2 separate regions of the Homo sapiens genome follow, and region 1 is linked to region 2. Evidence: fine-mapped expression QTL. A gene starts in region 2. The other region holds a variant in brackets. All regions are shown on one strand. Distances are between the middles of the regions. Region 1 has its middle 37 kb from the start of SOX8. Region 2 holds the start of SOX8 (SRY-box transcription factor 8).

Region 1 (4,378 bases), 37 kb after region 2:
CTGTGTGGAGTGTGACCCACCCTGGCACTGGCTGCCTCTTTAGGGTTCTGGGCACTCTCTGAACTTTGTAGTTTCTTTGGCATTTTTTTTCTTTCCTTGTTTGCTCTTTATTAATTTTTTCATAATTTTATTTCTCAGACATAATTCACATAAGAGTCACCATTTTAAAATGGACGGCTCAATGATTTTAGCACGCCCACTAAATGTGCTGGAATTGTGTAACCATTATCACCATCGATTTTATTTCATTTTTAATTTTTGTGGATACACAGTAGGTATATATATTTATGGGGCACATGAGATGTTTGGATGCCAGCATGTGGTGCGAACTAAGCATGATCCGTTTTAGAACATTTTATCACCTCCCAAAAGAAATCACCTAACCTTGGCCAGGCACGGTGACTCACGCCTGTTATCCCAGCACTTTGGGAGGCCGAGGCGGGCGGATCATGAGACCATCCTGGCTAACGCAGTGAAACCCCGTCTCTACTAAAAACACACAAAAAATTAGCTGGGCGTGGTGGCGGGTGCCTGTAGTCCCAGCTACTGGGGAGGCTGAGGCAGGAGAATGGAGTGAACCCGGGAGGCGGAGCTTGCAGTGAGCCGAGATTGCGCCACTGCACTCCAGCCTGGGCGACAGAGCGAGACTCCGTCTCAAAATAAAAAAAAAATCATAAAAAATAAAAACAAAGAAAGAAATCACTCAACCTTTAGACATCAGTATTTCCGGATCCTCCCACTCCTGATTCCCTCAGCCCTAGACAAACACCAATCTGTTTTCTGTCGCTGCAGGTTTGCCTATTCAAGACATTTCACATAAATGGGATCACACGATGCGGGGCCTTTTGTGTCTGGCTTCTCCCACTGAACTCATGTTTTTAAGGTTCATCCATCCGGTAGCAAGGGTCAGAATCTCTTTCCTCTGTGAGGCTAGTGTTCCGCTGCGTGGGTGAACTGTCCCCCATCTATCCATTCAATTGTTAGTGGATGTTTGGGTGGCTTTCATTTTTTTTTTTTTTTTGGCTATTGTGAATAGTACTATGAACATCCATATACAAATGTGTGTGTGGACATATATTTTCAGTTATCTTGGGTAGATGGCTAGGAACGGAATTGCCAGGTCATGTGCTAATTCTAGGTTCCGACTTTTGAGGAACCATTAAATTGTTTTCCAAACTGGCTGCCTCATTCTCCATTCCTGCCAGCAGTGCGTGAAGACTTGTTTCTCCGCATCCTCACCAACACCTACAGCCTGGTTTTCCTGACATAAGCATCCTCATGGGTGTGAGGTGGCCTCTCATCGTGGCTTTGATTTGGGTTTCCCGGGTGGCTGGTGACACGGAGCATCTTTTCACGTGCTTGTTGGCCACAGGTGTATCTTCTTTGAGAAATGTCTGTTTCGATCCTTTGCTATTTTAAATTAGGTGATTTGTCTTTTTATTTTATTTTTTTTCTTTTTTCCTTTTTTCTTTTTTTGAGACAGAGTTTCGCTCTTGTTGCCCAGGCTGGAGTGCAATGGCACCATCTCAGCTCACTGCAGCCTCCACCTACCTGGTTCAAGCAATTCTCCTGCCCCAGCCTCTCGAGTAGCTGGGATTACAGATGCCCGCCGCCACGCCCGGCTAATTTTTATATTTTTAGTACAGATGGGGTTTCGCCACGTTGGCCGGGCTGGTCTCAAACTCCTGACCTCAGGTGATCCACCAGCCTCGGCCTCCCAAAGAGCTGGGATGACAGGTGTGAGCCACCGCAACCGGCCTTTATTGTTGACTTGTAAGGGCTCTTGATGTATTATGGATATTATATATCCCCTTATCAGATAAATGACTTGCAAATATTCCCCCCATTTGGTGGGTTGTCTTTTTACTTTCTCGATGGTGGCCTGTGAGACACAAAAAGTCTTTAACTTCAAATATCTCTCTACATTTTGTGTGCCTTTTGTTGCTTTTGGTGTCCTTATTTATTTTCTTTTTTTGAGACAGGGTCTCCCTTTGTCACTCCCCCAGCTAGAGTGCGGTGGCGTCATCACCGCTCTCTGCAGCCCCAA[C/T]CTCCCTGGGCTCAGCCATCCTCCTGCCCCAGCCACCTGGGTAGTCAGGGCTCCAGGTGCACGCCACCACACCCGGCTAATGTTTGTATTTCTTGTAGTGATGGGGTCTCGCTATGTTGCCCAGGTTGGTCTCAAACTCCTGGGCTCAAACAACCGTGCCTTGGCCTCCCAATGTGCTGGGATTACCGGTGTGAGCCACTGTGCCTGGCCTTTATTCATTTCTATGTGGCTGAACACATTTGGTATGGATCCCAGGCCCTTGGTGAGCTGGGTGGGTGCAGACACACATGTGTGGATGGAGCCCAGGCCCTTGGTGAGCTGGGTGAGTGCAGACACACATGCGTGGATGGAGCCCAGGCCCTTGGTGAGCTGGGTGGGTGCAGACACACATGCGTGGATGTGGGCATGGGCAGGCACAGGTGTGGTGGGAAGAGTGTGCCCAGCGTTAGGTGTCAGGGGAGCTCAGGAAGATTGAGGCAGTCAGGGAGGACTTCCTGATGGAGGAGCCTGGTCCTTTGAAATGTGGGGTGGGGACCTCGCCCCACATTCAGTCTGGTTCGGGGGTGGGGCCCCCAGCCCCCCTCACATTGGGGGTGTGTTCCCCTCCTCCTTTTGGAGCCCAGCCCCAGGTTGCAGGAACAGTGAGCAGCGAGACCACAGGGCTGGAAGCCCACGGGGTAATTAATTTTGACTTACAGGAGCTGTCTTAAATTGGATAGAAACTGGCGAAAATAGGATTAAGAGGGAAGCTGAGCCAAGAGCAAACAGAAGGAAAACTCCCCGAGAGCCGGGCGCCTGGCGGGGCTCTCGGAGCCGCTGAGCGGGAAGAGGCACAGGACATTGCTGGGCGATCGCGTCATGTCCGAAGGCGGCCTCCCCGTGCCACCCCACGGGAGCGGCGGCCGCGCTGGCTGGGAAGATGGGAACGCGGCACTCTGCCCTCCCTGCAGCTGGCTTATCTGCGCTGAGCTCACTCGATTCTGAGGATTAATTTGGAAACAATTAAAATTCTGTGCAAAACAAGCAGTGGGCTGGGCCGGCCAGCAGGCTGGCACGCACGGAGCCCTTTCATCACCAGCGCAGAAATCTAATTAGTGTGGGATTAAGCCGGCCACAAACCAGCGAGCCGGGAAGGCTCCGGCAAGGGCAGATGAAGCCCCGGGGCGAGGAGCGCCGTACAGCACGGGTGTCCGGCCGGCAGCAGCCCCGGCCCTGGCCCTGCGCTGGCGTCTCGGCTGAGTCGAGCCGGAAGGCCACCCCCACAGGCGCTGTCCTGACCCCCCGCCGTCCGGTCACCCCCAGCCCACGGGCCCTTTCCCGTCCACGTGCTAGGAAATGGCAAACCCATCAGAGCCCTGAGGGAAGGCAGCGGAGGGCGCAGGCGCCTGCAGGCCTCGCGCACGGGGACCCCACTTCGCAGCTGGGCTTTGCGGCTCCTAAATATGCCTGGGACCTGTCCCGTTGACTTTCTCTTTCGAAGTGCCTTTGAGTGTCTGGCAGCCGTGACTTTCTATCGGGCCGCCTCTCTGGCCGGCTTCCTGCTGCAATGATCGCTGAAGCCTCTCCCCAAGCTCTACAGGCGTGGTCTGTTGGGGTCAGATGCATGAGGCATGTGGCTGATAGCGCGGGGTGCATGTGGCTGTTTTGCTGGTGTCTGGAGGCGCTGGGTTTGGCCGGGACACGGTCGAGAACTCCCCGTCGGGCCCTCAGGTAGCAGAGGTGACAGCCCTGTGGGTTCGCCTGTTGGCCAGATATGTGAGGACCACTGGCTGCAGTGGAGCTGACTCCACGCCTTGTAAGCTACCCCTTCTGGGTTCTGCAGGGCACAGCCAGAGGGGGGGCAGGGCAGCTGTCTGCAGAAGGTCCCTCCAGGCCACCTCTGGGGCAGTAGCTGGCTTCCCAGTGTCCCAGGAGCCAGCAGACCCCTCCCAGAAAAACGCATTCCCGCAGCCCCTCTCCACCTGCAGGACCCGTTCTGGCTGTGCCCTCGGGCCCCAGAATAACAAACCCTTTGGGTGCTACCGGGCACAAGGACGATTCTCTGGGGGCATCTGCAGCTCCCTGGCAGCTCTGTGCGGTCCTGGTGCACAGGGAGGGGTGTGAGTGCGTGTTGCTCTCAGGGCGGGTGGGAGGGGAGGACCAGGCAGGCTCAGGGGCCTGAGGGCAGCAGCCCTGGGGGGGCCTTTTGTAGCACGAGGGTGGAGGGAGGGCAGGCGGTGGGGAGGCTCACCCCACCCATGGCAGGGGGAAAGCCTCAGGGGGAGACCAGACTTCTCACCTCCCTTCTGTCACCTCCGGTCACCCCACAAAGCCAGTGGGCACCAGGGCCTG
Region 2 (4,378 bases):
CCCACATACCGCCCTCCCGGGAGTGCACCAACACGTCCTCAGCTGACTGGCCTAGGCCCCCACCACCCCGCCACAGAGACTCCCCACCTCCCCACCCCTCCTGTGGCAGCCTGCACGCCCAGCACCTCCCCTGGTGATCACTGCAACCTGGGGAAAGGAGCAGGCGCTGTTGGAGCCTGAGGCAGGGTCTCAGTTGCACAGACCACCGTGCCCCAGAGTCAGGGCCTGGATGCCACTCCCCAACCTCAGTCTCCCTTCCTCCAGGGGTGCTGGAGTTCCCCACCTGTGTCCCAGGGACTTGAAGCTTCCTTGGTGGATGGGGAGCCAGGAAGAGGCCACCCTGCCTGCTCGCAGACCTAATGCAACTGCTTTTCTTTGGCAAAGAGAGCTCTCCACGGAGGTCCTCACCCGGATGGCACTGTGAGCCCGAGTGGGCGATGTCTGCTCTCCCAGGGGCAGGGGGTGGAAGGTGGCACAGTTTGGACCGGACCCCCACCCTCACTGCTTCCACTTAAACCCCCACTTCTGCCTGCCTGCATCCCAGGCCTAACAGATGAGTTCCGCGGGCGCCCCAGGCGATGCTCTGAGGGCCACGGAAGGATGCGGGGACCCCGAGCGGAGGGCAGGGCCTCCAGGGGGAAGAGGCACTGCAGACGGAGGTGTGGGTCTTCCCAGGCAGGTGCCGGAGCCAAGCGAGATGGTGGGACGGGGAAGAGAGGGCAGGCCAGGCTGGCAGCCAGCTCTCCACCTACGATGCGTGGAGCCTCCCAACTCGCGCACTCCGTCTCCCCACCGCTGCTTCCTCTGACCTGGCTGCAGAGATGAGACCGCCCTCCGGGCAGGTGACACGGCCCTTGCTCTTCAGCCTGGAGGCCAATGCTTCCTCCAAAGGCCCTGGCCCCCTCAGCTCCGGGCCTGGCTCCGGTTGTTCCCAATGCAAAGCAGCAAGGGCCCCGGGGTCTGCGGACGGGGGCGGGCGGCCGCTGGGGGCACCAGCTCTCGGCCGGGCCAGAACAGGGGGTAGGAGGCGCGTCCTGTGCGGTCGGTGGCGGCCCCAGGTGGGTGCGGTGCGCTGGCAGGAAGCGGCAGCACGACCCCCGACTTTGCATCTGGACTTTTCTAGTAACGGACCAGCTCCTTCTGCCGACCGGGCCGGGGAGACCGCGTGGCTCAGTGGCTGCAGCGGCCACCGGCCCGGGCGTGGGGGCTTTGAGGGCACCGGCGCGGTAGGTCACCCGGGTTTCGCGGGCCGCAAGCTCGGAGACGCGCGTGTCCCGCGTTGGCTGCCTGACCCGGAATGGCGCAGCCCCTTCGCCTCCAGCGCGCTGGTTGAAAGGATCCGAGCCACCCTCGGGGACGGCCGGGCCGAGGCCACCTCGCGGGGCGGCCTTGGGCGGGGACCCGGACCCGCGGTTGGACGTTCGCCTCGGGGGGGGCAATGTCCCCTCTCCGACCCCGCGGTCCCCACCAGGGCGGCACACCCCGCCCTCTCCCCGCCTCCGCAGGCGCCCAGGGCTCACAGGCTCGGAGCGGCCTCCGCCTCTGCCGGACCACCCAGGGCCGCCCCGCCGGAGGGGCCTCCCCGCCCCCGAGCCCTAGGTCACGCCCGGAAGGCCCGGGGCCCCCGCGTCCGGCCACGCCATCCGCCCGGCGGCCCCAGGGACTCAGCGCCGGGGTCAGCGCAGGCCCCGCCCAGCGCTCCCGCCCCCTCCAGCTGGCCGGCCCCCGGGACCGCGCCCCCGCCCGCGCTCTCCACGCTCGCACTCGTATGGGCAGGGCGGCCCGGGGTCCCCCAGCTCCGAGCCGCGGCCCCTTGAAGCGCGTTACCTGGACGTGCGCTGTCCGCAGACTCTGGACGAGCTGGGCCTGGGCGCTGCGCGGCGGAACCGACCCTGTCCTGGACCGCAGGCAGCAGCTGACCCCGCGCCACCGGCCTGCGGGCGAGACCTCAGGCGCGAGACGGGCTGTGTGTGTGTGTGTGTGTGTGAGAGAGAGAGAGAGAGAGAGAGAGAGAGAGAGAGAGAGAGAGAGTGTGTGTGTGTGTGTGTGTGTGTGTGTGTGTGTGTGTGTGTGTCGGGGGAGGGGCCCGAGGACCCGCTTCCTAGCTGAGCGTCAGGACGGGGGGCGGACTCTCAGGAGCCGCGCGGCGCCCGCAGAGGAGAGGAAGCGCCGGAGACCCCCCTGCTCCCACCCGGCCTCCCTGCCCCGCTTCCTTTCCCGGGGCTCCAGAGAGGGGAGCTCCAGGCGTGGGGCGCCTGGCCCACGTGGTGCGGCGCCGGGCGGGGCAGGCGGGGGCGCGGCGAGAGCCGCGGAGCTTTCTTTATGGGTGGGGGGGCGGGGGCGGCCGGGCTCCGCCTCCGGGGGATCGGGGCGCGCTCCGCCAATGGGTAGCCGGGCGCGGGGCGGGGCCGCGGGGCCGCCGCTTAAAGAAACTTGTTGCGGGTCCCGCAGCGGGACCCGAGCCTCGGCGGCGGCGGCGGCGGCGGCAGGGGCGAGGGTCGGGGCCACCGCGCGGCGACCTCGGGTCCCGGAGCGACCGCAGGGCAGCCCCGGGCGCCGGCCCCGGTGCGCGTCTCCTGTGCGCGCCCCTCCGCGCGCGGCCCCGATGCTGGACATGAGCGAGGCCCGCTCCCAGCCGCCCTGCAGCCCGTCCGGCACCGCCAGCTCCATGTCGCACGTGGAGGACTCGGACTCGGACGCGCCGCCGTCTCCCGCCGGCTCCGAGGGCCTGGGCCGCGCGGGGGTCGCGGTGGGGGGCGCCCGGGGCGACCCGGCGGAGGCGGCGGACGAGCGCTTCCCGGCCTGCATCCGCGACGCCGTGTCGCAGGTGCTCAAGGGCTACGACTGGAGTCTGGTGCCCATGCCGGTGCGCGGCGGCGGCGGCGGCGCGCTCAAAGCCAAGCCGCATGTGAAGCGGCCCATGAACGCATTCATGGTGTGGGCGCAGGCGGCGCGCCGCAAGCTGGCCGACCAGTACCCGCACCTGCACAACGCCGAGCTCAGCAAGACGCTGGGCAAGCTGTGGCGGTGAGTGCCGGCGCCCCGGGGGCGGGGTTCGGGACCTTGGCCGCCCCTGGTCTCGGACTGCGAGCGGGGGCCTGGAGGGCGCAGAGCTCGCGGAGGTGGTGGCCACACGCAGGCTCCGGGCTCTGCACCCCGGGCGGGTGTCAGGGCGGGTCCCAGTGGAAAAACATCCTCTGGCCAGCCGGGGTCCGGCGCCAGCTATGGGAGTCGGGATCCGCGGAGGGCAGCGCCTGGGGTGTGCACCCTCGTGGCGGGTGCGCTCTGGAGCCAGTTCTCCTGGCGGGGAACACCCTGCGGAGGGCCATGGCTGGCACCCCGACGTGCCCTCCAGCCGTTGCGAGTGGCCCCAGCCCCGGGAGGCACGCCCGGCACGACAGCAAGTTGCATGCGGCTCTCTGGAGGTGCTCCCTCCTTAGAAAGGGCTCAGCTCCTCTAGCTCCTGGACCACCCATGGGGAGGGAGTGCGGCAGGCGGATGGGTGGGCAGCAGGTTTGCCTGCGAGTACCCTCCCCGCAGTTTCTCCCTCTCCTGGACACCCTCGGTCCGAAGCAGGGAGGGCAGGAGTGGAGATGACGGGGTGCGCCGTGTGCACGCCTTGGCGTGGTGGGGCCGGTCAGTTTTCCAGAAATTAGGACTGCAGAGTGAAGAACTTGTTGCTCAGGACAGGCCGCCCCCACCGAGTGTCCTCTGGTTGGGTTTCAAATGGTTCTCTTGGTTTGGGGCTCTGGTTCCCGTATCCTGCTCCTCACCTGGAAGAAGGGAGCTTGGAGCTTGCGTATTTGCACCTCCTGCCTTCTGTCTGGATCTAGGGCGCAGCCACGGGGCGCTGTGGACGGCAGGCCCCTGCTCCCCCAAGTCCTGCCGCACAGGCGGTTGGAGGTGAGCCTCGGGAAGAGTCCCAAGGAGTGTGTCCTGTGGCTCAGTGAGGACGGGCGCCTGGGCCCTGCCAGGGCTTCTGGGTGTCTGGGAATGGAGGGACAGCAGCCCAGCTGCCCGCCGAAGGCCGGCACCGTTCCCGGGAAGCCTCGCTTTTGTCCACCGCCGGCTGGGTCCTGCCCGCCTCCCCCGCCTCCCTTAGAAAGCCCCAGAGGGAGGGAACAGCAGGCCCGGAATAGGGGGAAATAGAAGGAGGAAGATGGGAGGCGTGGGGCTTGTTCTTCTTTGGCTGTCGTAAGCATACCAACCTTCCCAAACAGGCGCCGGCCGGTTCTCCCAGAGGAGTGTACTGCCTGGTGCCACGGGAGGCTCCGGAGCGCACGGCAGGCGGGTTTCCCTGGTCAGAGCCTCCTGGCCCCGGCCTCTGCTGCCGGTTCCCCCTGTGGTGTGTGCCTGCGCCGAGGGCACAGTGGGCGCC

Evidence for each region. PIP is the estimated chance that this variant, and not a neighbour inherited with it, causes the effect.
Region 1: its variant is the best candidate, but not a certain one, in a credible set for the expression of SOX8 in whole blood (INTERVAL, PIP 0.61).

Annotation. Positions count from the first base shown.
Region 1 is chr16:1,016,467-1,020,844 of GRCh38, forward strand. No RefSeq gene overlaps it. Among named protein-coding and RNA genes, the nearest start is that of SOX8, 37 kb to the left of the region's middle. The variant C/T (reference allele first, on the strand shown) is at 2,048.
Region 2 is chr16:979,318-983,695 of GRCh38, forward strand. It overlaps SOX8 (SRY-box transcription factor 8), which reads left to right and starts at 2,453. Exons shown (of 3, transcript NM_014587.5): 1 at 2,453-3,027. The coding sequence starts at 2,606. CEROX1 (cytoplasmic endogenous regulator of oxidative phosphorylation 1) reads right to left here and starts at 2,296. Exons shown (of 3, transcript NR_164343.1): 1 at 284-2,296. It also overlaps a transcript of LMF1 not described here.